Linked DNA regions of Homo sapiens: all the other regions are reported to be linked to region 1. Evidence: microRNA targets listed by miRTarBase, many of them from high-throughput screens and not tested one by one. Region 1 holds a microRNA gene; each other region holds the end of a gene's coding sequence.
The links. Region 1 holds the annotated microRNA hsa-miR-5706 (UUCUGGAUAACAUGCUGAAGCU, at 2,477-2,498, shown strand). A microRNA usually pairs through its seed, bases 2 to 8, with sites in the 3' UTR of a target mRNA and lowers its output. Matches are read on the target gene's strand: a 7mer-m8 pairs with bases 2 to 8, a 7mer-A1 pairs with bases 2 to 7 and ends in A, and an 8mer does both.

Region 1 (7,119 bases):
TTAAAATGTTTATTTTGTCATAATCTTTGCTTAAAACATTGGAATTTTTAATGGTAGGCAAAAGGAGTTAATGAAGAAACATACTGGAGATGTTCTGTGTTATGTTTTTAAATGCATGATATGTTCAAGGCAAATTAGTATTGTTTCATTTTCTTTAATTTCTTCTTTAGATTGTCTTTTCTCTCCTTTTTTTTGACATTTATCTAAATTCAGTTTTTCCACCAAACATTGAATAACATTTGTGTTATAATACATTCTCAAATTTTAAATATTTCACAGAGTACAGAATATTGAAAGTGTAAATTTACCCACACTTAAAACTACTGATAAAATATGTATTTCAGATATTAGTTTAGTATATTTCATGTATTCTATATTTAGTGCTGTATTTCAGATACTGTTAGTTCTCTTACTTTGAACTATCTTAGACTTTGAACTGTCTTAGCATAACGTAATAGATTCTTATTAAACGATTATTGTAGGTACCAGAAAATAACATTGTCTTAGAGAGTTCAAAGTAAGAGAAATCTCACTTAAGTTCACTTAAACAAAACAGCATGTTTTTTGGCTCATCTCCCGGGAAGTTCAAGAAATAGAGCTGACTTTCAGCATTATTGGAACTATAGGTTTAAAAAGTGTTATTGGGACTTTGCAGTTTAGCCTTTTAGCCTCTGCTCCTTGGTCTCAGTCTCTTGCTCGTACCTTATGTCTCTGTCTCTTTGTTTCTCTCACTATTTTCTTTTTCTCATTTTGCATATAGCTTTGAAAAAAGTAAAGTTGAAAATTCTAAATCAAATTCTTTTTAGTTTTTTTTTTTTCTTTTTTGAGATAGAGTCTTGCTCTGTCACCCAGGCTGGAGTACAGTGGTGTGATTTCCGCACACTGCAACCTCCATTTCCTGGGTTCAACTGATTCTCCTGCCTCAGCCTCTCGAATACCTGGGACTACAGGCGCACACCACCACGCCTGGCTAATTTTTGTATTTTTAATAGAGATGGGGTTTCACCATATTGGCCAGGCTAGTCTTGAACTCCTGACCTCAAGCAATCCACCTGCCTCGGCCTCCCAAAGTGCTGGGCATTATGGGCGTGAGCCATCTTGCCAGGCCAAATTCTCTTTAAAATTTTTAGATTGTAATTTAGCACATTAAAATTGTATGTATTTATAGGGTACAAAGTAATGTTCTGATATATGTATACAAAGTGGAATGATTAAGTCAAACTAAACATATCCATCACCTCAGATATGTAAAATATTTGTGGTAAGAATATTTGAAATGTACTCTCTTAGCAATATTGAAATATACAATACACTATTATTAAAGGTAGCTACCATGCTGTGCAGTAGATATCAAAAATGTATTCCTCCTAACTGAAACTTTTTACCCTTTGACCAATGTCTCCCTTCTCATCCTGTCCCCAGCCTTGGGCAAATACCGTTTATTCTCTGTTTCTTTGATTTCAATTGTATTCGATTCCACAGATAAGTGAGATCATGCAATATTTGTCTATGACTGGCTTATTTCACTTACTGTAATGTTCTCCAGGTTCATCCATGTTGTTGCAAATGACAAGATTTCGTTTTTTAAGGCTGACTGGTACTCCAGTGTATATACAGGCATACTCCTTTTTATTGTGTTCTGCTAGGTTGCATTTTGCAAATACAGCAGTTTTTACAAATTGAAGCTTTGTGGCAACCGTTTGTTGAGCAAGTCTTTCAGCACCGTTTTTCCAACAGCATGTGTTCACTTCATGTCTCTGTGTCTCATTTTGGTAATTCTCACAATATTTCAAACTTTTTCTGTCATCTGTGATCAGTGATCTTTGTTACTATTATAATGGTTTTGGAGTGCCATGAACTGCGCCTATGTAGGACAATGAATTTAATCAATAAATGTTGTGTGTACTGTGGCTACAACACTGATCAGCCATTCCCCTGTATTTCTCCCTCTGCTCAGACCTCCCTATTCACTGAGACATAACAATATAGAAATTAGGACAGTTTAACAACCCTACAATGTCTTCTAAGTGTTCAAGTGAAAGGAAGAGCTGCATATCTCTCCCTTTAAATCAAAAGCTAGAAAGGACTAAGCTTAGTAAGGAAGGCATGTTGAAAGCCGAGATAGGCTGAAAGCTAAGCCTCTTGTGCCAAACAGTTTACCAAATTGTAAATGCAAAGGACAAGGTCCAAAGGAAACTAAACGTTCTCCATTGAACACATAAATGATAAGAAAGCAAGGTAGCCTTATTGCTTATGTGGAGAAAGTTTGAGTGGTCTAGATGGATCGAACTAGCCACAAGATTCTCTTATGCCAAAGCCTAATCCAGAACAAGGCTGTAACTCGTCTTAATTTCATGAAAGCTGAGAGAAGTGAGGAAGCTGCACAATTAAAGTTTGAAGCTAGCAGAGGTTGGTCCATGAGGTTTAAGGAAAGGAGCTTTCTCCGTAAACTACAAGTACAAGGTGAAGCTAGGTCTTCTGGATAACATGCTGAAGCTTCTACGTCATTCAGCACTTGCTTCAGCATGTTTTCCAGAGGATCTAGCTAAGATAATGGATGAAGGTGGCTACACAAAAGGACAGATTTTTAAAGTACATGGAACAGCCTTCTGTTGGAAGAAGATGCCATCTAGGACTTTCGTAGTTAGAGAGCAGTCAGTGCCTGGCTTCAAAGAACAGACTGACTCTTGTTAGGGGCTAATGCAGCTGGTAACTAAGTTGAAGCCAATGCCCATTTACCATTCTGAAAATCCTAGAGTGTTTAAGAATTATGTGAAACCTATTCTGCCTGCGCTCTACACATGGAATAGCAAAGCCCAATGGCAGCACCTCTGTTTATAGCATAATTTACTGAATATTTGCAGCCTACTATTGAGACCTTCTGTTGAGAAGAAAGATTTCCTTTCGAAATATTGCTGTTATTGACAGTGACCTGTTCACGCAAGAGCTCTGATGCAGGTGTACAAGGAGATTAATATAGTTTTTATGCCTGCTAACACAACATTCATTTTGCAGTCCATGAATCAAAGAATGCCTCCAACTTTTAAGTCTTATCATTTAAGAAATACATTTCATAAGGCTATAGCTGCTATAGATAATTATTCCTCTGATGGATCTGGACAAAGTAAATTGAAAACCACTGGAAAGGCTTCACCATTCTAGATGCCATTGGGGACATGTGTAATTCATGGGAGGAGGTCAAAATATCAACATTAACAAGAGTTTGGAAGAAGTTGATTCCAGCCTTCACAGATGACTTTGAGAGGTTCAAGACTTCAGTAGAGGAAGTAATTGCAGATACGGTAGAAATAGCAGGGGAACTAGAATTAAAAGTAGAACCTGAATATGTGACTGAATTGCTGCAATCTCAGGGTAAAACTTCAGCAGAGCCAGGCACGATGGCTCATCCCTGTAATCTCAACACTTTGGGATATTGAGGTGGGAGGATCGCTTAAGGCCAGGAGTTTAGGATCAGCCTGGGCAACATAGACGCCATCTCTGAAAAAAATTTAGGTAGGTTTAGTGTTACGTGCCTGTAGTCCTAGCTATTCAGGGAGCTGAATAGGAATATCACTTGAGTCCAGGAGGTCAAGACTGCAACGAGCTATGATCACACCACTGCACTCCAGCCTGGGCAACAGGAGGAGACCCTGTCTCAAAAAAAAAAAAAAAAAACAAAACTTCAGCAGATGAGGAGTTGCTTCTTAAAGGATGAGCAATGAATGTGGTTTCTTAAGGTGGAATCTATTCCTGGTGAAGATGCAGTGAACATGGTTGAAATGACAACAAAGGATTTAGAATAGTCTGTAAACTTAGTTGATAGAGCATTGGCAGGGTTTGAGAGGACTGACTCCAATTTTGAAAGAAGTTCTAAATTCTATCAAATAGAATTACATGGTATAGAGAAATCTTACATAAAAGGAAGAGTCCATCTATGTGGCACACTTCATTGTTGCCTTATTTTAAGAAATTGCTATAGCCATCCCAGCCTTCAGTAACCTCTACCCTGATCAGTCAGCAGCCGGTAACATCAAGGCAAGATTCTCCATCAGCAAAAATTATGACTTGCTTAAGGCTCAGGTGATTGTTATGTTTTAGCAATGATGTATTTTTTAATTAAGGTATGTACACTCATTTTAGACATAACGCTATTGCACAGTTAATAGACCACAGTATGATGTAACCATAGCTTGTATATGCACTGGGAAACAAAAAATTGTGTTACTCATTTTATTGCAATATTTGCTTTATTGTGGTGGTCTGAAATCGAACCCATGGTATCTCCAAGGTCTGCCTATATATACGATATTTTCTTTATTAATTTATTGATGGATACTTAGGTTGAATTGATAACTAAACTATTGTGAAGAAAACTTCACTTAACATTGGAGTGCAGCTATCTCTTCAACATACTGATTTCACATCCTTTGACTATATACACATAAGTGGGATTGGTGGATCATGTGGTAATTTTGTTTTTAAATTTTTTCTTTTTTTTTTTAGTTAAAATTTCTTTTCTTTTCTTCTCTTTTAATAAAACATTGTCCCAGAATATTTTTAGATATTTGAGGAACCTTCATACCCTCTTCCATAATGGCTGTACTAATTTATGTTCCCATTAGCAGTGTACCAGGCTCCCCTTTTCGCCACTTCTTTATGAAAACTGTTTGTTTTTTTCTCTTTCTGATAATAGACATTCTAGCAGGTGTGAGTTGTTATCTCATTATGGCTTTAATTTGCATTTTCCTGATGATTATAGATATCAAGCGCTTTTTTCATTTATCTGTTGGACATTCATATGTCTTCATTTGAGAAATATCTGTTCAGTTCATTTATCCCCTCTGGTTTTTTTTTTTTTCCCCCAAGAGTTGAGGGTCTTACTCTGTTGCCCAGGCTGGAGTCAAACTCCTGGCCTCAAGCCATCCTCCTGCCTCAGCCTCTCAAATAGCTGGGTCTACAGGTGTGCACCACTTGTGCCTGGCATGCCTATTTTTTAATTGAGTTGTTTTCTTGCTATTGGGTTACTTGAGTTCTTGATATATTTTGGATATTAACTCCTTATCAGATATACAGATTGCAGATATTATTTCCCAATCCACGGCTTTTCTCTTCACTCTGCTAATTGTATTCTTTGCTATGCAGACATTTTCAGTTTGATGTCATCCCATTTGTTCATTTTTGCTTTTGTTGCCCGTCCCTTTGGTGTGATATCCAAAAAAATCATTGCCCAGACTGATGACATGTAGTTTTCCCTCTGTGTTTTCCTCTAGTAGTTTTACAATGCAGGTCTTATGCTTAAGTATTTAATCCATTTTGACCTATTTTTGTATATGGTGTAAGATAATGGTCCAATTTCATTCTTCTGCATGTGGTTATCTAGTTTTCCCAGCACCATTTTTTGAAGAAACTATCCTTTCCCATTGTGTGTTCCTGGCACGTTTGACAAAAATCAATTGAGTATAAATGTATGGGTTGATTTCCGTGCCTTCTATTCTGTTCCATTGGTCTGTTTCTGTTTTTACACCAGTATCATGCTATTTTGGTTACCCTAGCTTTGTAATATAGTTTGAAATCAGGTAGTGTGATGTCTCTAGGTTTGTTCTTTCATCTCAAGTTTACTTTGAGTATTTGGTGTTTCTTGGTATTCCTAATGAATTTTAGGGTTTTTTTCTTCTATTTCTGTGAAAAATGACATCAGTATTTTGATAGAGATTGCGTTGAATCTGTAGATCATTTTGGATAGTTTGGACATTTTAACAAATTAAAAATTTAACAAATTAATTTTTCCAATCTGTGAACACTGGATATCTTACCATTTATTTGTGTCTTCAAATTTCTTTCATCAATATTTTATAGTTTTTATTTTAGAGCTCTTTTATCTCCTTGGTTAAATTTTTGTTTTTAATGAGATGGGGTCTTGCTGTGTTGCCCAGGCTTTTCTTAAACTCCTGAGCTCAAATGATCCTCCCACCCTGGCCTCCCAAAGTGCTAGGATTACAGATGTGAGCCACCGGCCTGGCCGATATATTTCTAAGGTTTTTTTTTTTTTTTTTTAAGTAGCAATGATTAATGAGATTGTTTTGTTTATTTTTAAAATCAGATCAGATAATTTGTTGTTACTGTATGGAAATGCCACTGCTTTTTGCATTTTAATTTTGTATCCTTCATGTTTAATGTAGTTGTTTATTAGTTCTAACTGTTTCTTTGGTGGAGTCTTATGTGTTTTCTGTATGTAAGATTGTGTTGTTAGCAAACAGTGACATTTTCACTTCTTTATTTCCTATTTGGATGCCTTTTTATTTCTTTCTCTTGTCTAAATGCTCTGGCAGGGACTTCTAGTACTATCATAATTGAGTAGAAGTTGTGAGAGAGTGCATCCTTGTCCTCTTTCTGATCTTAGAGGAAAAGCTTTTGAATTGTCACTGTTGGGTATGATGTTTAGCTCTGGGCTTGTCATTTATGGCCTTTGTTGTGTTGAGGAACATTCCTTCTACACCTAATTTGGGAGAGTTTTTGTCATGAAAGGATGTCGAATTTTATCAGATGCTTTTTTTGCATCAGTTGAGAGGATCATATGGTTTTGTCCTTAATTTTGTTAATATGAACAGAATGACATCAGTTAATTTGCACATGTTGAGCTAATCTTGAACCCATGGCATAATTCCTACTTGATCACAGTGGGTGATCCTTTTATTGTGCTGTTAATTTGGTTTGCTGGTATTTTGTGGGGGGTTTTACATTTGTATTTATCAGGGATAATGGCCTATAATTTTTTTTAATTCATTTTGCCTGGCATTGGCATAAGGGAAATCCTGGTCTCATAAAAAGAGGAACTTTTCTTTCCTTTCTGTTCTTCGGAGGAGTTCAAGAAGGATTGGTGTTAGTTTTTCTTTAAATGTTTAGTAGAATTCACCGGTGATGCGATCAGATTCTAGGCTTTTGTTTTGATGGGTTGATGGGAGACTTTTTTTTTTTCTTTGAGACAGAGTCTCGCTTCTGTCACCCAACGCTGGAGTGCAGTGGTGCAATCTCGGCTCACTGCAACTTCTGCCCCCGGGTTTCAGGTGATTCTCCTACTTCAGCCTCCTGAGTAGCTGGGGTATTTTTAGTAGAGACAGA
Region 2 (7,118 bases), not on the chromosome of region 1:
GCCAAGACTGCACCATTGCACTCCAGCCTGGGTGACAGAGCGAGACTCTGTCTAAAAACAAAAAACAAAAAAAAAAAGAAAGAAAGATATTTTATTTTATTTTTGAGACTAGAGTCTTGCTGTGTCACCCAAGTTGGAGTGCAGTGGCACAATCACGGCTCACTGCAGCCTTGACCTCTTGACCTCCCAGCTCAAGCGATCCTCCCACCTCAGCCTTCTGAGTAGCTGGAACTACAGGTGAGCTCCAACACACCTGGCCAATTGTTAACTTTTTGGTAGAGATGGGCTCTCACTATCTTGCCCAGGCTGGTTTCAAACTCCCAAGCTCAAGTGATCCTCTCACCTCAGCCTCCCAAAGTGCTGGGATTACAAGCTGAAATTTTACATAATACAAAGTTTTAAAGAAAGAACAGGCCAGGCGTGGTGGCTCATGCCTGTAATCCCAGCACTTTGGGAGGCTGAGGCAGGCAGATCACCTGAGGTTAGGAGTTCAAGACCAGCCTGGCCGACATGCAGAAACCTCATCTCTACTAAAAATACAAAAATTAGATGGGCGTGGCAGCGGGTGCCTGTAATCCCAGCTACTCGGGAGGCTGAGGCTGGAGAATCGCTTGAACCCTGGAGGCGGAGGTTGCTGCAGTGAACGGAGATTGCGCCACAGCACTCCAGCCTGGGCAACAGAGCGAGGCTCGGTCTCAAAAAAAGAAGAGACAGCCGGGCGGGGTGGCTCACGCCTGTAATCTCAGCACTTTGAGGGGCTGAGGTGGGCGGATCACGAGGTCAGCAGTTTGAGACCAGCCTGACCAACATGGTGAAACCTCGTCTCTACTAAAAATACAAAAATTAGCCAGGCATGGTGGCATGTGCCTGTAATCTCAGCTACTCAGGAGGCTGAGGCAGGAGAATCACTTGAACCCGGGAGGCGGAGGTTGCAGTGAGCTGAGATCACGCCTCTGCACTCCAGCCCGGGTGACAGCGAGACTCCATCTCAAAAAAAAAAAAAAAAGAGGCGGCTGGGCGCGGTGGCTCATGCCTGTAATCCCAGCACTTTGGGAGGCCAAGGCGGGCAGATCACAAGGTCAGGAGATCGAGACTATCCTGGCTAACACTAACACAGTGAAACCCTGTCTCACTAAAAATACAAAAAATTAGCCGGGCATGGTGGCGGGCACCCATAGTCCCAGCTATTCGGGAGGCTGAGGCAGGAGAATGGCATGAACATGAACCCGGGAGGCGGAGCTTGCAGTGAGCTGAGATTGGCCACTGCACTCCAGCCTGGGCGACAGAGTGAGACTCCATCTCAAAAAAAAAAAAAAAAAAGAAGAGGCTTGCCGTGCTGGTGCCTGGCTTAGGCAACTGGCTGAATGGTAGCTCTATTTCCTGAGATGGAAGACAGAGAGGAGCAGATGGTGGTAGGGGTGGAAATTACAGGTTCTGTTCCTGCCATGCTGTGGGTAGCCTATGTCAGGAGAGAGCAGAGGCAGAGGCCGCTGGGGTTTGGGAGCCAGGCTTTGCACCCCTTCTCAGGCATGAATTCTTCTCTTGAGAACGGTTTAGAACAGAACACCTTGGCTTGATGTTGACTCCAAGAGAGTCTGAACACGTGGCCACCCCATCTCCCATCAGGAGATTGTGAGCTGAGAGCTGTCCATCAAACAATGGGGCTTCTGGGTCCCTCCTCTTCCTGGCTGTGCAGGCCCAGTGCCCTCCCTCATGAGGTGCAGGTGGGTTTAGAGCCTTGTGACAGTGATCATGTAACATGTAACAAATCACTCCAAAATGTAGTGGATTAAAACAAGGATTTATTTCCCCTCATTCTATAGGACAGCAGTCTGGGCTGGGATCAGCTTGGTAGTTCATCTGCTGGTCTCACCTTGGGTCACTCCTGAGGCTCCTGTCATCTGCGGCTCAAGTGGGGCTACAGTGTCTAAGATGGCCTCTGTCATCCCATATCTGGAGCTGATGCTGGCTCTTGGCTGGGGGCCTCAGTTCTCCACGCAGCCTCAAATCTGTCAGGAGGCTTGGCTGGACATCTTTACAGATGGTGGTCTCAGGATTGCAAGAGGGCAAAGGTGGAAGCTGCGAGAGTCCTTGAGGCCTAGCCTCAGAAGTGGGCCAACATCTCTTCCCTCACATCCAATCAGTCACAGCAAATCACAAGTCCAGCCCAGATTTAAAGGGCGAACAGATTCCACTTCTTTTCTTTTCTTTTTTTTTTTTTTTTTTGTGAGATGGAGCCTTGCTCTGTTGCCCAGCCTGGAGTGCAGTGGCGTGATCTCAGCTCACTGCAACCTCTGCCTCCTGGGTTCAAGTGATTCTCCTGTCTCAGCTTCCTAGGTAGCTGGGACTACAGGTGCACACCACCACGCCCAGCTAATTTTTGTATTTTTAGTAGAGTTGGGGTTTCACCATGCTGGCCAGGCTGGTCTTGAACTCCTGACCTCAAGTGATCCACCTGCCTTGGCCTCCCAAAGTGCTGGGATTACAGGCGTGAGCCACCGTGCCCGGCCTGATTCCACCTCTTGAGGAGAGGAGTGGCAAAGAATTTGTGGCCATATTTAATCTACCATAGGCCTGAAGGTCCCCATAAATGATCTGAGCAGCTCACTTTGCCCTGAGCAGGCCCATATCTGACATGCCACCACCTTCCTTCCTTAAACCAGCACTATAAAGAGCTTGGTGTTCATTTTGCAGATCACTTTACAGGTATCAATCAGTTAGGAATGGCAAATGGCATTTGGCTCAGCAGTTGATTGCATTTTTGAAGATGACCACTAATATATCTCCCATCCCGCATGCTTTTCTAACAATGTGACATTGACAAGCCTCCACAGAGAGATGAGATCCTATATTCCCTCCCCTTGAAACTGAGTGGACCTTCATAGTAGCCTTGACCGATGGAAAGGGGCAGAAGTGATGCCATGTGACTTAGGAGGCTAGATCACAAAGTGCAATACAGCTTTCACCCTCTCAGTATACTTGTTCTTGGAACCTAGCCACCATGTTATGAGGAAGGTCAAGCCGCTTGGAGAGGACCTGTGTGGGTGTTCCCACCAACAGCCCTAGTTAGGCTCTCAGCCCTCAGCCCTCAGCCAGCATCAACTGCCAGACATGTGAGTGAATGAGCATTCAGATGATTCAAGCCCCAGCTTTTGAGTCTTCCAGCAGAGGCCCTGGATGTCGTGGAGCATAGAAGCCATCCCCATTGTGTCCTATCTGAGTTCTTGACCCACAGAAGCCAGGAGAGAGCATAATAATTATTGCTCTTTTAAGCCACTAGGGTTAGGATAATTTGTTATGTGGCAGTAGATAATTGGTAAAAGCTGCTGGTAACAGAGACAAAAAAAAAAAGCAATGGGCTTAAGCAGACTTACAGTTTATTTCTCTTTCTCATTGAAGTCTGGAGGTAGGCGACCCAAGGGATGACATGGAAACTTGCATGGTGTCATCAGAAGCCCAGGATCTTTTCCCTTGTTGCTCTGCTGTCTTCAGCATGTGGCTACAATTTTCTTTTTCTTTTCTTTTTTTGAGACGGAGTCTTGCTCTGTCGCCCAGGCTGGAGTGCAGTGGCGCAGTCTCGGCTCACTGCAAGCTCCGCCTCCCGGGTTCATGCCATTCTCCTGCCTCAGCCTCCCAAGTAGCTGGGACTACAGGCGCCTGCCACCTCGCCTGGCTAATTTTTTGTATTTTTAGTAGAGACAGGGTTTCACCGTGTTAGCCAGGATGGTCTCGATCTCCTGACCTCGAGATCCGCCCGCCTTGGCCTCCCAAAGTGCTGGGATTACAGACATGAGCCACCGCGCCCAGCCTGTGGCTACAATTTTCAAGGTCATTTCCTGCTCCAAGATGGCTGCTGGCGTTCCAGCTATCACATATGCATCCAAGGCTGAATGCAGGCTGAAGCAGAGAGGACAAAAATGGCCTTCATCAATACTGCTTCTATTCAAGGGGCATTCTTGGAGATCCCTTCCAGCACCTTCTGTTTATATCTAATATCCTAGAATTCAGCCACACAGTCATACCATATATGCCAGGGAGGCTGGAAATGTTGCCCTTTAGCTGGGCACATTGCCTTCTGCAGCAAAACTGGGGTTCTGTTATTGGGGAAGGGAGGAGAATGGACAGTGAGTGGCCAGTGGGCAGTTGTTGGCTATGGTGTTAGAGCAGAATGGTGGAAAAAGGGTCTTTCCCATGGCAAGGAGCTGAAACCAGCATGCTGGCCTCCCTACCTGCTGGAGCCTTTTTTTTTTTTTTTTTTTTTGACAGTCTCAGGTGGAGTGCAGTGGCGCAATTTCAGCTCACTGCATCCTCTGCCTCTCGGGTTCAAGCGATTCTCCTGCCTCAGCCTCCTGAGTAGCTGTCACAGGTGCCCGCCACCACACCCAGCTAATTTTTGTATTTTTTGTAAAGACGGGGGTGGGGGGTGTCTCACCATGTTGGCCAGGCTGATCTCAAACTCCTGACCTCAAATGATCTGTCTGCCCCGGCCTCCGAAAGTGCTGGAATTACAGGCATGAGCCACTGTGCCTGGCCACCCCCTGCAGCCTTGTTGAATGTTTGGGCACCACAGGGTTTTCCACCTAATTTGCTTCTGAACGAGGAACTGATTTCACACCCAAAGAAGAGAGGCTGTGGGTTAACGCACAGGGAGAACTCTGGTCTTTCACTCCACCCTCCCGACAGAGCCAGCAGGTCGCTGGACTTTTGCTAAATATCCTAAAATGCAGCCTTGACTGTATCACGTCCCTGCCCAACCCCCTTCCATGGTTCCAGATTGCCCAGTTTGCTCCAGTTTAAGGACAAATTCTAGGGTTTGGCATGGAAGCTGCAGCAAAGCCTTCCATGGCTTCTTGCTTCTATCTCCTTGTCACACCTCAGCTCATGCCCGACAACCAGGCCTTTGTCTGGGCAGCATCGGCTGTCCAAGACATTGCTTGCCATGTCTTTGCTTAGTGAAATCCACCCATTCTCAGCACACTTCCCGGGCCACCACTAGCCCTTAAGCCACCTTTGCGTGAAAAGGAAAACGGTCCCCTTTCTCCAAGTGGATGTAGCTCCATGCCAGAGTTTGGGGAGTGGCCTGTAGGCTGGATTCCATGCACGCTTGCCCCTTAGCCCACTGCCCTTGCACAGTGAACACCCTTTACTGCTGCACATGTGACAATGCCACGTCCAGGAATCTTTCAGAGCTCCATCAGGGAGTCAGGACCTTCCTTTTCCCTGATGTTTTCTCTGCCTTTGGATTCCATGCCAGCCTGCCCTGGTTTGGGGCTGCCCTTTCCAGCTTTGTGTCTTCTGACCTGCTTCATGCCCTTTCCCTCAGATTGATAATGTCAGTAGCCGCTGGGGGGGCACCGAATTCGAGTCACAGACCATAGCTCTTTCTCCCCACTTTGGGGACCGGCCACCACTCCCTTAGCCCTCGGCATGCCCAGCAGCAGAGTGGAATGTCCCACTGAGCTGGAACAAGGGCCACCTTGACAATGCCTTAGCAGTGACCCAGGCCCAGATACCGGAGTCAGGGGAGCCAGGTGCTCAGAGCGCCTCACACTTGAGTCTCAGAGGCCCCAGGCTAGGCAGGGGAGGTTTCCTCTCCTCTGCTTACTTGGTTCCTGGGAACACTGGAGCCCAATTCTGAGTCCCTTCCCAGAACCCCTCATCGTGCCCTGAACCATGGGGGCCCATAATGCTTGCAGTGGAGGCCTTAGACCCATGACCCAGGAATGCACAGGCCTTCCATTCCATACCTTTATTTAATCTGCATCTTCTCAGCCTCCTCCCTTCCCCGCCACCCCTTAGAGGGCGTGGAAGCCCTCGTTGAAAGGGAAGGAACTCCTCTCTCCTCCCTGGGGGAGGGTCAGTGTCCCCTGGGCCAAGACTCGTTGATGGGAGAAGCAAGGGCCTGCGTGGTGGAGCAAGGACATCATCCAAGAGGCTGTGGCCAAGGCCCAGCCCCTCGGATGCCCTCTAGGCCTGGGCCCCATGGATCATCAGGAAAGTGAAGAGTAGATAAGTCCGGGAGGGCAAGGAACGGGCGTCCCTGCGTGTGTGTGGCTGATGGAGGCAGACATGGACTTTGGGAGGCAGGAGCAGAGGCCAGGGGATGTGGGGACCAGGTGAGGCCCTGAGAAGGAACCCCAGGTTGTAGGGGTAGCTGCATGTGGGGGGAGTGACTGGCCCTGAGCAGCGGGAGAGAGGGCAGGCAAGGAGGAGGGGCCTATCAGGGGAGGATGGGAATGTTGGGTGAGTAGCAGGGCCAAGGCCATGGTGCCACCACAGCCAGCTCTTCAGCCCCAGGGAAGCCAACCTGGCTGGGCATGGCCCCAAGCCTCCAATTTGTGCTTCTGCGTCACTGGGGGGGCTCCCAGCATGGCCTCAGCCCCGGTAGGGAAGTGTCCACAGGCAGCCTCTGCTGCAGGCAACAGCTGGCCGCAGGACTCCTCCTCCATCCCAGCCTTTCTGGAAGCTTCTTCTCCTGCCCTTTGTGAGAGGCCTTCAGGCCAGATCATCGGCCATCTTGGGGGATGAAGCCATGCTGGGGGCGATTCTTAGGCTTCCACTTCCTCCAAAATGACCACAGGTAACTGCATTTTAGTCTGTTTAAGGACCCCCACCCCCACCCTCACCCCTGCCCCTTGTGTGTGGCTGGTCTGTTTTCCCGCCTGTTTTGGACAACAATCACTCGGGCATCTAAGCCCATGGTGGAATGGTGGGGAGGGGGCCACTCTGGGGGCCGTGGGGGGTCTCAGAGAGCACCCTGCCCATCCCCCTGGCAGCCGCTGTCTCCGTGGACAATGAGCACCGGGAAGTAGAGGGCGTCCTCATAGCAGGGCGGGCTCTCCAGGGGTTCCGTGTCCTCTCCACGGCGCCCCAGCGGCCCCCCGCTCAGGCTGCGGAAGACCCCTGGCGTGGCCCGGCCGCCAGCGCCCAGCGAGAGGCGGCTGCGGCTGAAGGGCAGGCGGGGCCCGCTGGGCCGGGCGGGGGGCAGCGAGTTGCTGCTGACAGAGCGGCGGCAGCGCTGGCAGCCTCTGAGGTAGGCGCCCGAGCCCGCGCCCATGACCACGGCCTCCGAGTAGCTGGGCACCAGCTGCCGGTTGGAGCAGATGTGCCACTCGAGC
Region 3 (7,119 bases), not on the chromosome of region 1:
GCCAGCGATTCAAGGTTTCTAAGAGGAAGGGCCCAGGAACCTGCATCAGATTCTTATGCACGCTTGAGTCCGAGACTCACTGCTCTCAGCATCCCTTTCCTCGGAGCTTTAAAAGCTTCCAGAGTCTCCTTCCTCTTAGCATTTTGAGTATCTTCTAAGTAAGCCAAGGAAGGTTTTTACTTAACAATGTTTGGCTTTTGGGGAGTGCTCTGACGCAGCTTTGTGGGCCTCCAGAACCAAAGGCGTGCGTGCTTAATGGTAGGAGTGTCATTTGTCCCTAACCTTATTCCTCGGTCCCTGCAGCCCCACCAGCTACTGGAAGTCCCTTGCCCCTGATCGGTCAGATGATGAGCACGACCCTCTCGACAACACCTCCAGACCGCGATACTCCCACAGTTATCTGAGTGACAGCGACACAGAGGCCAAGCTGACGGAGACTAACGCATAGCCCAGGGGAGTGGTTGGCAGCCCTCTCACCCCAGGGCCTGTGGCTGCCTGGGCACCTCTCCCAGGAAGTGGTGGGGCACCGGTCTCCCCCACCCGACTGCTGATCTGCATGGGAAACACCCTGACCTTCTTCTGTCAGGGGCACTTTCCAGGCTATGGGTGTCTGATGTCTCCACGTGGAAGAGGTGGGGGAAAGAGGAGTTTCTGAAGAGAACTTTTTGCTCCTCTGTCTCAAAATGCCAGACTCTTGGCTTCTACCCTGTGTCACCGTGGGCAGTGGCAGGTGGCCTGGCACTGCATGGAGCCAGCACGTTGACCTCCCTCTCAGCTCCCTGCTCAGGGACGGTGGACAGGTTGCCTACTGGGACACTCTAGGTTGCTGGGTCCATGGGGAGGATTGGGGGAGGAGAAGCAGTGCCTTCCCTCTCGTGTGGGGTGGGGGCTCTCTCTTCTTGGTGCCTGCTGTCTTTCTACTTTTTAATTTAAATACCCAACCTCTCCATCACAGCTGCATCCCTGAGAGTGGGAGGGGGCTGTAGTGGTAGCTGGGGCTCCCAAGAACGACTCGGGAATGTCATCTCCATCTTCACCCTTCAGAGAGCAGTCCTTTCTCTGTGCAGCTGGAGACGCTGGTGAGGAGAGCCGGGTCCAGGTTCTTAAGAATGAGGTGCGGAGGGGCTCTCCGGTGCTGCTGGGCTGGGTTGAGCAAGCCTACGCAGACAAGTGTGTGTGTGGACCATCCGCACCTCCAGCCCCCACCCCACCCTCTTTGTCTCAGCGTGTTATGTGCAATGACCTATTTAAGGTAAACCCATTCCAACTACAGCAGTTCAGGGCTGATCCAAGCACTGCCTCCCTCCTGCTCTGTCCAGGTGGTCTGGACCATAAACTCAACTTGAGAGGGAAGGCTTGGGGTTGAGGACTTGTGATCAGAAAAACTGAAGATGGAAGTTTTGGCCGGTGCTCATTAGACATGAGTCCTCACTCTGTGTCCTGAGCCCGTGTCATTCTTCCAACCTCCCTGCCCCCACACACTTATCCCAGACACAACACCATGTGGTCTGGAGGTCCCAGCCCCCACCCTAAAAAGGTTATCCCTGAGAACTCCACCAGACTTGGGAGCCCAAGTGCAGTGCCTGGTGCTGCTCCCATCTGCCGCCCCCCTTCTCTCCTGCAATTGGTTTGTACTCACTGGGCTGTGCTCTCCCCTGTTTACCCGATGTATGGAAATAAAGGCCCTTTTCCTCCTGGCTGCGCCAGTTTTCCTGCCTGTTCCTTCAGGCTCAGGCAAAGTCTGGATTGGTCCTGGGGGTGGTGGGCAGAGGCAGGATTCTGATGGGGACCGTGAGGGCATCACCCTGGTCTCTGGCCTGCTCCCCAAAGTGTCAGACCAGTGCCACTTAAAGAGCCTAGGCAGCTCATTTTGGGGCAGGCAGAGGTAGTGGAATGAGGGGATTGGCCAAGGAAGACACAAGCCCCACCTTTTATGTGAAGAGCCTAGGGACTGTGATTCAGGTTAGCAAGGGTGGCAGAGACTCCAAGCCTCATCCTCCCTAGCCTCCACAAGGGAATGTTGAGGTCCCTCTGATTGTTAAATCTCACCAATTACAGAGATTCTCTTCTCTTCTCTTCTCTTCCTCCTTCCGTCCCTCCCTCTCTCCCTCTCTCTCTCTCTTTCTTTCTTTCATTCTCTTTCTTTTTGGATTCAAGCCCTTCTCATTAGAACATTTTTTAAAAGCTTAATTTTAGCCATTTCAAAGGTGACTTTTTGATCAAAACTTGGCAGAACTAGCTCGGGCCCACAGGGCAATGTGAATAGGTTGGGAGTGCTGTCTCTGCCCTGCTCGGTCCCTGTCTTCATGCCCTACTCCATGCTTTGTTCCTTCATTGACAGCTAAGAGGCAGCTCATGCAGAAAGGCAAGAAACAAATGACACCCCTCCTCCTCTTCTACCTTCTACCTTCTCATTCTGTAGTGTGGCCAGTTATAATCCCTGAATGAATAAAGTAGTTTGGACAGATGGGTGGGAAAAAATAGCAAACAGCCCAAGTGCCGAGGCTCTGATAATGTCAGCCATCCAGAAAGAGTCCAAAAGGGAAGAAGGGAGAAAAGTCTCCCCCAAAATGAATGGGACAGAGTGTGAAGTGGATCTGTCTCGAACAGAGACTGCCCCCTCCATTGCCCCACGATAGAACAGAGAAGAGGATAGAAACAATAGTAAAAGGGAAGTTACTTGTCTTTTGGAGACAGAGTCTTGCTATGTCGCCCAAGCTGGAATGCAGTGGCATGATCTCAACTCACTGCAACCTCTACCTCCCGAGGTTCAAGCGATTCTCCTGCCTAAACCCTCCGAGTAGCTGGGACTTAACAGACGTGTACCACCACGCCTGGCTAATTTTTGTATTTTTAATAGAGACGGGGTTTCGCCATGTTGAGCAGGCTGGTCTCGAACTTCTGACCTCAAGTGATCTGCCTGCCTCGCCTCCCAAAGTGCTAGGATTATAGGCATGAGCCACTGTGCCTGGCCTAAGTTACTTTTTTTTACAAAAAAAAAAAAAAAAAAAAAAAGGCTGCTAGCTTATGTTCAGTTCTGTCACTCTCATCTTTTATTCCTGTTTTCACATAGCGTGGTACATTTTCTGTTTCTACTAGGGACTAGTGTGACAAACTCCCTGCCACCTTTAGATGAATTCCCAAATCTGTTCACTCATACTGAGTCAAGCCTCTGGTTAACTGGAAACTCCAACATCAACCTCCAATAACCCGGCCTGGGGTAAAAAGCTTTGTTCAAGTCAGAAAACATATTCATTTGCTTAACAGTTGAGAAATATTTCATGACTGCCTGCTGTGCCTAGGCCCCATTCTGGGTGCTGGTGATGGATAAGGTCCCTTCCTTCATAAAGTGGAGGAAGGTAGACACAAAATACATGCTGCACCTGCTAGTATGCATAAGCTTAGAGTGGGTAGAGAGGAACACATCATAGTATCCATCCTCCAGGGTTTTGCGGACGAGGGCTGGAGCAGACCCATGTGGAAATAATTACATAAGACCTAACAAGGATGAAGAGGTTGCTTTGGACATACTATGGAGGGAGATGCTCTCTTTGGCGGGGAGGATTGGGAAAGCCTCTAAAAGGAGCTGCTATTTTGACCAGGGCTTGAAAATAGCACTTCCACAGGTACAGTTGCTGGGAAAGGCATATTGAGAAGAAGAAGAGTTTAAGTAAAGGTCCTGGGGCAGGGAAAGAGAGGTGCTGGTAGAACATGCCACAGGCTGGCTGTGCATTGTCACATGACCAGTGCTTCTCCAAGTTTCAGTTGAGAAGGAGACAATTCCCTTGGCCCCAGAGGAGTCCAGGAGCCTTTAGGGCCACCAAAGCCCATCTTTATTTTGGGTGTACCTTGAAGGCTCTGCTGTTGACCTTACCTGTACACTCATGGTACCTCTGGTCCCTAAGATGTTGCAGAAGGCAAATCTGGCCCTTTGCCAGGCTCAAAGCCAGCCTGCTAGATCCTCCTCTATAACTGCAGATCCCCGGGATTGCTCTGACTCCTGAATAAGCATGGGCGGGAACCAGTGCCCCTGTGGGACTCCCCATGGTGCCCAGTCTGTGCCCAGAAAATAAAGTGGCAGGCAGTGACCCCTAAATGGTCTTCTTTTGTCTTTGTGTCTCCTTGGCAGATTATCCCAGTTGTCCTTGCCCCATCCTCCACCCACTTGCCTGGTGGCAAAGACACTTAGCGATTTGCTCCTTAATTGTCCCCCAGCTAGGCTGCGCAGATGCCGCTCTTTAATCTCTCCTGATAAATGAATCGCGCCGCTCCTTTAATCATATGTTCATATCCAAGCCAATTTGAATCAATTTGGCAGGGAGCGTGTTGCAAGAGATGCCATGACTGCTGTTTCTTCCCCAGGGCCCTGGAGCCAGAGCGGCTGCTGTCCTTACCCTCAGCAAAGAGCCCAGGAGGCCCATCCAGGGAAAGGATCGCCTACCTGAATAGTGGGGACTTTTCAAAGTCTTCTAATTCATTCCTGACCTCCAAGCTGGCCGTGTGGGACTGGAGGGAAATGGATTCCCAAAGGCCTCGGAAGTGGGAGGGGGATGAGTCCCTAGCCTGCCTTGGTCACTGAATGAAGGGCCCCATTATCATCCCTGGGAGAAAGTACTGCCTTAAATCTAACCCTAATCCCTTCTGTTCCCCGTTCATTTCCACTGCACCGGTTCTCTGGGAAGCTGGAACACTTCGTCACCTTTTATATAGCAACACATTCCAGACAAGTCTATGATAATTTGTCCTTGCCTGCTTCTACTGGCGGCCACCCTGACTCCTTCCATCTTCTCCTAGGACATATTTTCTAAAACCTCCAGCCTGGTGGGCAGTCCGACACGTTCGGTAATGTACCAAGCTCTGCCGCCTTTCAGGCTGCTGCCTTTTCACCTCCAGAGTGGTGCCCCCGTGCAGTAATGAAAACAAAGCAAAAATAGACAAAACCTGCCAAACTGAGTTCTTCTGCGTCTAGCACTGCGACCTTGGAGAAGGGGCTTAACCTGTCAGGCCTCAGTTTCCCCATCTGTGAAACAAGGTAGTATTGCTGGCAAGAACCTTCTGGCTTCTAAATTCAGAGCTCCTTACCACAGCCAAAAGAATCTCCCACGCCCTCCCCCTTCATCCCCCCTAGTGAGGGACTGACAGTTGATGCCCAGTGGGGCTTCGAGATCCGGGTGCTGTGGAAGAAACGTTGTGCATGGTCTGTCGGGAGTTAGTTTCCATTCAGACACTCGGTTGAACCTCGAGGTCCTCTCATTTCCTCTTCTTCCCTAGCCCGCTCTGCCAGTCCAGGCTTGTGCCCTACCATTCACTGGGAAACCGAGAGCTCGTTAGCATATTCATATATATATTTGCATATCCACTTTTCATTGGCGCACGTGGCCCTCTGGTCCCGCCCCTGCCTGGAGGTTCTTTACGCACTTCCCAGAAGCCACTCCCCTTAAAAGAAATGGGTTTTCAAGCCGCCGATGGGCAGCCCATCTGTGTTGCCCTTTTAATGATTACAGCGGCATTAGGACAGGTCTACTCTCCGAGCAACCCGGAAATAATGTTTCCCGCCCTTTTAAGGGCCCTTGGAACTCTGGCCTGAGCTGAGGCCCAGAGTCAGTGACTGGGACTGACAGGCCCCTTCCTACCCTGTCAGTAGTGAGAGGAGGGTAATAAGAGCAATAATTGGCCGGGTGCGGTGGCTTACGCCTGTAATCCCAGTACTTTTGGGAGGCCGAGGAGGGTGGATCACCTGAGGTCAGGAGTTCAAGACCAGCCTGGCCAACATGGTGAAACCCCATCTCAACTAAAAACAATACAAAAATTAGCCGTGCGTGGTGGCAGGCACCTGTAATCCCAGCTACTTGGGGGGCTGAGGCAGGAGAATCGCTTGAACCCGGGAGGCAGAGGTTGCAGTGAGCCAAGATCGTGTCATTGCACTCTGGCCTAGGGGACAAGAGAGAGACTTCATCTCAAAAAAAAAAAAAAAGGACCAACAACAGTTCCCATTTGTTGAGCACTTACTATGATGACCCCAGCGCTTAAGCACTTTGCCCTACAAAATCTCATTTCACCTCCATCACAACTCTGTGAAGACGTCATCCTGGAAAGAAAACTGAGGCTGAGGGGTGATGTCATCTTTCTAAGCAGAGTCCTCAACTTGCTTCCAGCAGCTGGCCAGGCGTCTCCTAACTATTCTGGCCTTGGCAGAGGATGCAGTGAGAGGCAAGAAAGCAAAGAATCACTACCATGGTCCTCATCTCAAATCGCGTGTGCCTGGCATTCGCCAAGTCCTGGCCTCAGAAAGGAAACGCTTCTTGGCAATTTGGGGGGAAAATATCTACTTCACATTTGCGTCGCGCTTCACAATTTTCAGAGCATCCCCCATATATTATCACATTTTCACTTCACTCCCACTGTGCCAGCAATATGAATAACAGTTCCACATCGCTCAGAATGCATATTTTAAGCTATATTCACTTCAGTCTAATTTCATTACAGTACAACAACAATCCAGACCATTCCCTGCTATTTGATCTGGGAGGAAAGATTTCCAGAGCAGTAGCCATTTTGGAGTTAACAAGGATACTGGATGTGTTTAGAAGGAATTGTACAGAGAAATTGAGTCTTCTGTAGCGTGAGCCCCAGAGATGGGTCATAAACATAAGGGAGATTCCAAAAAGAGTGTGTGCTTTGCGACTGAAGTCAGTCACATAAATCCCCCAGTGGAATACTTATATGTGCAGATAGAATTTGCTGTAGATATCAAAAGTCAGCTATGACAGTTTTAGAAGAAAAGAAAATTCAAAAAGGATATTACGTTTTGACACTATCCAGCCAAATTATATTTGAAGTGGCTTAAGAGTCAAAGAGTTTCCACATTTTAAGAAATTTTTATATGTTTTGTGCCACATCTATGATCTGACTAGATTAGGAAAAGCAGCAAATGGATTTGGGAAAGAGAGGACACTAGGGAATTTGAAAATGGAAATTTAAAAAAAAAAGGAGTTAAGGCTGAGGTGGGTGGATCACCTGGAGTCAGGAGTTCGAGACCAGCCTGGCCAAGATGGTGAAACCCCCTCTCTACTAAAAATACAAAAATTAGGCCGGGCACGGTGGCTCACGCCTGTAATC
Region 4 (7,119 bases), not on the chromosome of region 1:
ACCAACTCTTCAAGACTCAAATGCACACGCACATGCGCACACGCAAACACACAGGTTAAGTGCACGTGAGCTCAGATGCTTACCTGCTAAGGAATGCTCCCTAAACTGAAGGGGAGGTAGAGGGTTCAGGTTGAAGCAGCTGAGTAGAATACCGCGAAACAGACCCAGAGCAAAGGGAAGAAAGGCAGCTCCAAGATCTGGGGTCAAGTCTACCTGCCCCCAACCTGCTCAGTCCCTGAAAGGAAGCCAGGACATACGTCCATACAGTGACCCTCACCCAGCCTTCCAGTGTAGGAAGTGGCCTTGTGGGTAAACAGCCCAGAAAAAGAAACACCTCCTAGGAACTTCTACAAATCAGTTCAGTCCTGCATTAAAGGACCAAGCATCACTTAGTATTTGTTCTTCTCCATAAGAATTAGGGTGAACAACTCACCTAATCCCTGAGATAAGAATTGTAAAAAAAAAAAAAAAAAACTCTAATTCATTTTCTTATACACAGTCCTTACATCCATGAAGAACAGGCTCCTATGGAAAGAGGAGCAATCAGAGAACAAACTGTTTCAGAAATTTTTTAAAGAAAAAAAGAGGGCCAAAATAAAAAATTTCTAGAGGGCGGGTAGAATCATCATGACTTAAAACCAAATTGGCTTTGTAGTGGAGTGATGGTTCCGGCAGAATTCTACAATCTACTAAGGCCAGACATGGTGGCTCTTGCCTGTAATCCTAGCACTTTGGGAGGCCAAGGCGGGCAGATGACTAGAGGGCAGGAGTTCAAGACCAGCCTGACCAACATGGTGAAACTCCATCTCTACTAAAAATACAAAAATTAGCTGGACGGGTGGCACATGCCTGTAATCTCAGCTACTTGGGAGGCTGAGCCAGGAGAATTGCTTAAACCCAGGAGGCAGAGGTTGCAGTGAGCTGGGATTGCACCATTACACTCTAGCCTGGGCAACAGAGAGAGACTCCGTCTTAAAAAATAGAAATAAAAAGTAGTTCAGGCCGGGCGCGGTGACTCACGCCTGTAATCCCAGCACTTTGCTGAGGCCGAGGTGGGTGGATCACCTGAGGTCAGGAGTTCAAGACCAGCCTGGCCAACATGGCAAAACCCTGTCTCTATTGAAAATACAAAAACTAGCTGGGCACAGTGATGGGCGCCTGTAATCCCAGCTATTCGGGAGGCTGAGGCGGGGAATTGCTTCATCCTGGGAGATGGAGGTTGCAGTGAGCCAAGATCACGCCACTAATTGCGCCCACTTCATCCTGGGCAACAGAGCTAGACTCCATCTCAAAAAAAAAAAAAAAAGTTCAGCTCCTTCAAGCCTCAGACAGGTGCGTTCTGAGGCATGCATTCTGCACTGTTTTCCAGATTCCCTGTGGGGTTGAGCTCCAATCCCACAGTGGCAGTGGCTTCACACTCCTCATCTGCTGCCTTCCAAGGGCCACTTCCTGCTGAACTTTGTGCCTGCACTTCCACCAAAGCCTACCTGAGCTAGAATCCCTGTCTTAAAGTCTGTTTTCTGGAAAAACCCAAACCAAGGATAGGATAATGTTTATTTTGTACTTGAGATACTTTTTAAAGAGGTGGTGGAAGTTGGTGCCCAGTAGAATAGCTAGGAAAGCCAACTTCAGGAAGGCCTGGGGTGATGAGCAGGAAGAGAGGATGTGAGTTGAAGACAGGCTGGGAAAGGGCGAGTCACAGGATGGTAGGTTTCCAAGGCAGTGAGGTGAGCCCTTGCTAACACTTACGATGCAAGTTCTCCATGTGGCTTATTGCTTGAGGAGCATCAAAGGCCCACCCTCCAATCCCGTGTGGGTCAGCTGTCAGGAAGCTGCAAACACTTTGTTCAACTGCCAGGCCCCTGACTTAGAAATAAGCCCTTGGATTACAATCAAATTAAAACTACTCTCGCTGCTTCAGTGCAGTTAACACATCCCCTTTCACCATGCACAACAGCCAAGAAGAAAGCAACTGACAAAGCTCAAAAGCCACCAGGGTTGGTTGGGATGAGAATTCATAAACACAGGTCAAAGTGACAGAAGCAGGAAATGCACCTGAACAGGACTCTTTTTTTTTTCTTTTTTGAGATGGAGTCTCGCTCTGTCGCCCAGGCTGGAGTGCAGTGGTGTGATCTCAGCTCACTGCAACCTCCGCCTCCTGGGTTCAAACCATTCTCCTGCCTCAGCCTCCCGAGTAGCTGGAATTACAGGTGCCGCCACCACGCCCGGCTAATTTTTTGTAATTTTAGTAGAGATGCAGTTTCACCATGTTGGCCAGGCTGGTCTCGAACTCCTGACCTCATGATCCGCCTGCCTCGGCCTCCCAAAGTGCTGGGATTACAGGCGTAAGCCACCGCACCCGGCCTAGGACTCCATCTTTCAATTTAAGGGTTTAAAAAAATATATAAAGACTCATGCTGTATTTCAATTATTCTAATATGTAATATTTAAGATGTCACATTTTAATATCTCTAACTGAGGCACAACTGATAAAAAATCATATTGGCAGTGCTTTTAGTGTATACAAAGTTGCGCATTTACAACAAATACGGTAATTCATATCATGTGAGCAAACGAGATTTTTAGGGCTCTTTAAAGACAGAAGTCCCTCATTCTTGGCCTCTACAAGATATAATGGTATTAAGGGCAAAACTTTTTTAGTGTATTACTTTGAGAACTTCATGAGTCAGAATACTTCAGTTTTTCAGATTAATGCAAACAAAGTTCAGTTCAAAAAATCTTATTTGGCAAATGTTTCTAGCAATTGGATTTACATTAAGGAAAACCTAATTTCATAGCCTCAATAGCCCAGCATGTAAAGTATGTATTTTCCTGTTCTAGGCAAGAAACAAGAATTTTCACTTCATCTGGCATTTTTCATCAGAAGGCAAATCACGGGGAAGTTAAACTTTGGCCCAACTGAAGGCTTCATTCATTTCAGCTTCCCATCCTTTCCATTAGTAAAGTCACCCTCCCTTTTTGCATCTGAGAAAGTCAAGATGACCCGGGACATCAAATATTCCGCATCACCACCAATCAGGTGTGGACAAGTAGGAGATGGCCCACTTTGGGTGTCTTTAATTCTTGACTCAATTTCCAAGTGTAACAAAGCACTCCCCCAATTTCCTGTTCTTCTTTCCAGCCTCTCTTGACCATCTCAAGAAAGGACATGGGTATAACCAGGATCAGGAAGGGGAATGAGCCATTCTTGTCTCTTGCATCCTTTTTTTAAGACCTGCTTGGGTTTTTGAATAGTCCAAACCCTGGCAATGCTTTCAGCCTTTTTGACCTTCAAACTCAAAATCAACATGACTTGGGAATAGCCAAGAAAAGGGCCCAAAATACCAGTTTCCCTTGAGGCCTAATTGTTAAACAGTTCTCAAAGAATAAGTTAGACTTACAGCAGTTCCATCCGTGAGATGGGGGATCAGGTGAGAACCCATATTGTGGGCACCAAGAGAGGCCTTCCTGGATTTAAGGGTTTGCGCCATAACAGAGCCCAAGCATGCGTAAAGCTCTAAAACCTAACGTGCTCTGCTAAAAAGCCCATGAGGTCCATCTCACAGGGCAGCAATGACCAGTGTGGTGGGCTTGGGCAGCCATTGCACAAGAACTTCTGCCAAATGAAGAAGGGCCAGAGATCATCTCATCCAAATGTCATCAGCACCAAGAACTCATGTTCAAACAACAGCACACATGTGGACTGAAGGCTCACAAAAGGCCCCCCAGTGGCCCTCCACACCTCATTCAAAACCTGCTCCATCTCTTCTTTCTCTACAAGAGACTTGAAACCTCAGAGAAGGGGAATCTCTAACAAGAAAAAAAATTGAAATTCCTCTGAGAGGAGAAACCTATTACCTGAGAATGCGTGGTCAGGTTTTTTGGACAAATGCAAATGTGATCCAATTACCTGTGAATGTTCTCAGAGCTTCTTTTCTTCTTTACTCTTCTCTAGCCATAATGTGGCAATATGGCCCTCTGGGAGGTGTGTGCTAGCAGCCATGGGAGTAGAAGGCAGATGCAGGCCCCAGGAAACCTTCAGGAAGACCAGGCTGAAAACAGTCTTCAATCTCAAATCAAGCACCTGTGTCCTCATACTTGCTCAGAAATGGCTTCCACATTCCAAACAGGATTAGACTGTTTGCTCTTACAACACTAACCCTTCTGTTTTTTGAGCTTCATCAATTGTCTACTTGTTTCCCACTGGACGTTAGTAGTGTCTTCTCAACATGGGTCTATGAAAGGAAATTGAGTAGTCAAGGCTGATTCTATATTTCATCTTTGTGGCTACAAACTCCAAAATAGAAATGGCTTAGGATAACACAATCTTTACAATGCCACACCACTCCCTAATTAAATTATTTATACTCACTGAAAATGGAAGCATAAATAAATATTCTCACTTTTCTTTAAAGACTTTAAATGGGAAAGCACTTTGGGGATTTTAAATGCAAAGATGGATGACGCACTGAGAGACAGTGATAGTTCAACACTACTGTAATGGTTTCTGGGGAGGAAACTGGCCTCTTTCAGGGAAAAATGTTCTCAAATATGGGAAACAAAAGGATTATAGATTACACATTACACAAAAAATTAAAAATACAGTGGCTTTATTTCCATTGTTTATAGTCCCCAGTATCCCATCTGATAAGAACCTTCAATTCTATAAACAAAAATATTTCAAGAAAGTATGTTACACAATAGTACATATAAGTAATAGTTTGGCAGAATTTTAAACTCTAGTAGTTCATACCCCCAAAAAACAAATTTTAAAATTCAAAAATAACAGTTTTATTTAACATATGTTACACCTTAACATTTAAAATATCATGCTCTAGTTAAATATTTCATCAACAACACTGTATACAAATAAAATATTACATAAAATATATTTAAGAAAATGTTTTGGTCTTTGATCTGAACAATAAATAAAAACACAGGCACTTCTACATAGACAGGGAAGCAGTTACTACTCAATAATAATCTTGTATAAGCAGCATGTGAAAATATGGCAATAATAAATTCTGGAATTTTAAATTGACAAACCATCTATGCAAAAGTCTGTAACTTCAACCTTTTCACTCAAGTTCAAAATACATATGCCTTCCTGGTCCATATTGAAAATTCACTAACACGATATGGTTGTTAGCGGCAATTCAATCTTCAGTTGGCCATTAAGGAATCACACTGATTTTCAAATACTAAAATTACACTATGATACCACCAGGAAACCAAATACAAGAAAAATTAAACCCTCTTTCTCCTTATTATGACCATAACATCACAACAAGATAAATTAGATGAGTGTCACACCATGATTCTCATTTTGCAAAATTAATTAACACACAAAAATACTGTTGGGGTGGCAGGAAATTTCCACAATTGAAAAACTGAATTCCACAACTGACAACTGAAATTTCAGTTTTCTAGACAATTTAAAATTTACCCAAATCCCATAAAAATAAACATAATTCCATTTCACGAAAACCACTGGATAATGTTTAACAAAGTCTTTGTAGCCAATAGGTTTATAAATACCTGAATTACAAATAAATCAGTCATTATTATGGGAAGTAGGAATATTATAGAAGAGGGCAAACAAAATCACTTAAAATGGCCAAATTCCAGAAACAGGATTTCAGATAAGAGGGTACAAGTTTTTTAAAAATGACCACTAGCCGGTAAGATCAGAACCAATCATCCTGCCATATCATCCATAAAAAAAAATTACCATCTTCCGCTTTCCCTCTTCACGTGAGTACCAAATTGAAGGGTTTAGAGGCCCTCAAATGGGTATCACTCATAAAGGCAATTTTCATGGTTTAATATAGAAATTACTCTAATGTGAGAACACAACATGGGAACTATTCAAAATACACCTTTCTATGCAAAATTGAGTTTGTATCTATTTTAGCATTTTAAATGAGCACTCTGCAACTGAGACCAAATATCAATCATCTCTTGAGGTTTTCTACTATGTACTAACATCAGATCTACATAGGAGCAGATGTTATTTTTGTTTTTCTCCTCGATATCAAATGTCCTGAAGCCTTTGTGTTTCTCTGGAACGAGGCCGAGTTTCTGAAGGCACATTCCAGTATAAACGTCATCAATGGGGTAGAGATGGACCTGGTCAGTGATATGGTACAGCCTCAGGGCCAGGTGGCCGGAGTAGAGGAACCCCCCTCCCCCTGCATAGGGTGGGTAGAGGCCAGAGTAAACAACTTCTGGGATGTAGTACTTCAGCTTCTTATCCCGATGAGGTCCAGCATTGTGGATCACATCACCTATGAAGAGATCTTTGGCTTTGGTCTTGGATAAACTATTCAAGTAATTCAGGATGTGATGGGTGTTCACAAAAACATCGTCATCGCCCTTGAAAACAAACTCAGTGTCTGGGCAGGAAGTACTTACCCACCTGAGAAACAGCACTTCCTTCAGAGACAAGTTGAAGAAAGTGTCTCTGTAGTTCCACATAAGAATGTCTTGGTGCTTCTCACTCTCAAATTTCAGCATATCTGAAAGGTCGGGGTGGTTGTCCTCTGGGGGTGTCTGGCCCAGCAGGAAGACTCGCACCACCGTTTGGTTCCCTGCGTTGCTTTCTTGGCCCCAGGATTCCCGGATTGCTTGCCTTCTGGCAAAATGTGGAGTGAGGGACTTAATCGCCAGCAACAAGAAAGGTTTCTTTGCACACTTATCCGGCTGATCTATAAGCAGTGAATAATTGCGGCATCTCAAATACAGCAGAAAGTCTTTAAATCTGTCCGGCAAGTTGTTAAAACCCGTAACCACCGACGTGACCCTCAGGTCAGGTTCGCAGTAGTTCAGATGGCTTATATTGGAGAGCCTGCCCGCCTCCCCCGTCTGGTTGGTCAGCATGCTCAGGATGGGGTTGTACTGCCGGTTCAGCTTCTCTTGCTCTCGGTTCCAGTATGCCTCGGGAGGGGTAGATATCTTCCAGAACTTCTCTTTGGGTATTATTACTTCCCCTTTTCCATTTTTTTCTTGGCTACTGCTTTTGGAGACTTCCATAATAAAATAAATGAAGACATTTGCCATCATCAGGATACCCAACAACTTTATTCTTCGACGTCCAACACTCATTTCTCATATCTGGAA

Region 2: miRTarBase lists TMEM151A as a target of hsa-miR-5706. Seed matches in the 3' UTR shown: 7mer-A1 at 6,458-6,464.
Region 3: miRTarBase lists MYO18A as a target of hsa-miR-5706. Seed matches in the 3' UTR shown: 8mer at 2,523-2,530.
Region 4: miRTarBase lists B3GNT2 as a target of hsa-miR-5706. Seed matches in the 3' UTR shown: 7mer-A1 at 5,023-5,029.

Annotation. Positions count from the first base shown.
Region 1 is chr5:119,152,170-119,159,288 of GRCh38, forward strand. MIR5706 (microRNA 5706) reads left to right here and starts at 2,468; the gene lies at 2,468-2,547. The region is part of intron 19 of DMXL1 (Dmx like 1); the gene reads left to right.
Region 2 is chr11:66,295,281-66,302,398 of GRCh38, reverse strand. TMEM151A (transmembrane protein 151A) reads right to left here. Exons shown (of 2, transcript NM_153266.4): 2 at 5,735-7,118. The coding sequence ends at 6,746. Among named protein-coding and RNA genes, the nearest start is that of TMEM151A, 6.9 kb to the right of the region's middle.
Region 3 is chr17:29,068,099-29,075,217 of GRCh38, reverse strand. MYO18A (myosin XVIIIA) reads left to right here. Exons shown (of 42, transcript NM_078471.4): 42 at 304-4,096. The coding sequence ends at 448. Among named protein-coding and RNA genes, the nearest start is that of PIPOX, 29 kb to the right of the region's middle.
Region 4 is chr2:62,222,206-62,229,324 of GRCh38, reverse strand. It overlaps B3GNT2 (UDP-GlcNAc:betaGal beta-1,3-N-acetylglucosaminyltransferase 2), which reads right to left. Exons shown (of 2, transcript NM_006577.6): 2 at 4,594-7,113. The coding sequence starts at 7,104. The coding sequence ends at 5,911. Among named protein-coding and RNA genes, the nearest start is that of MIR5192, 20 kb to the right of the region's middle.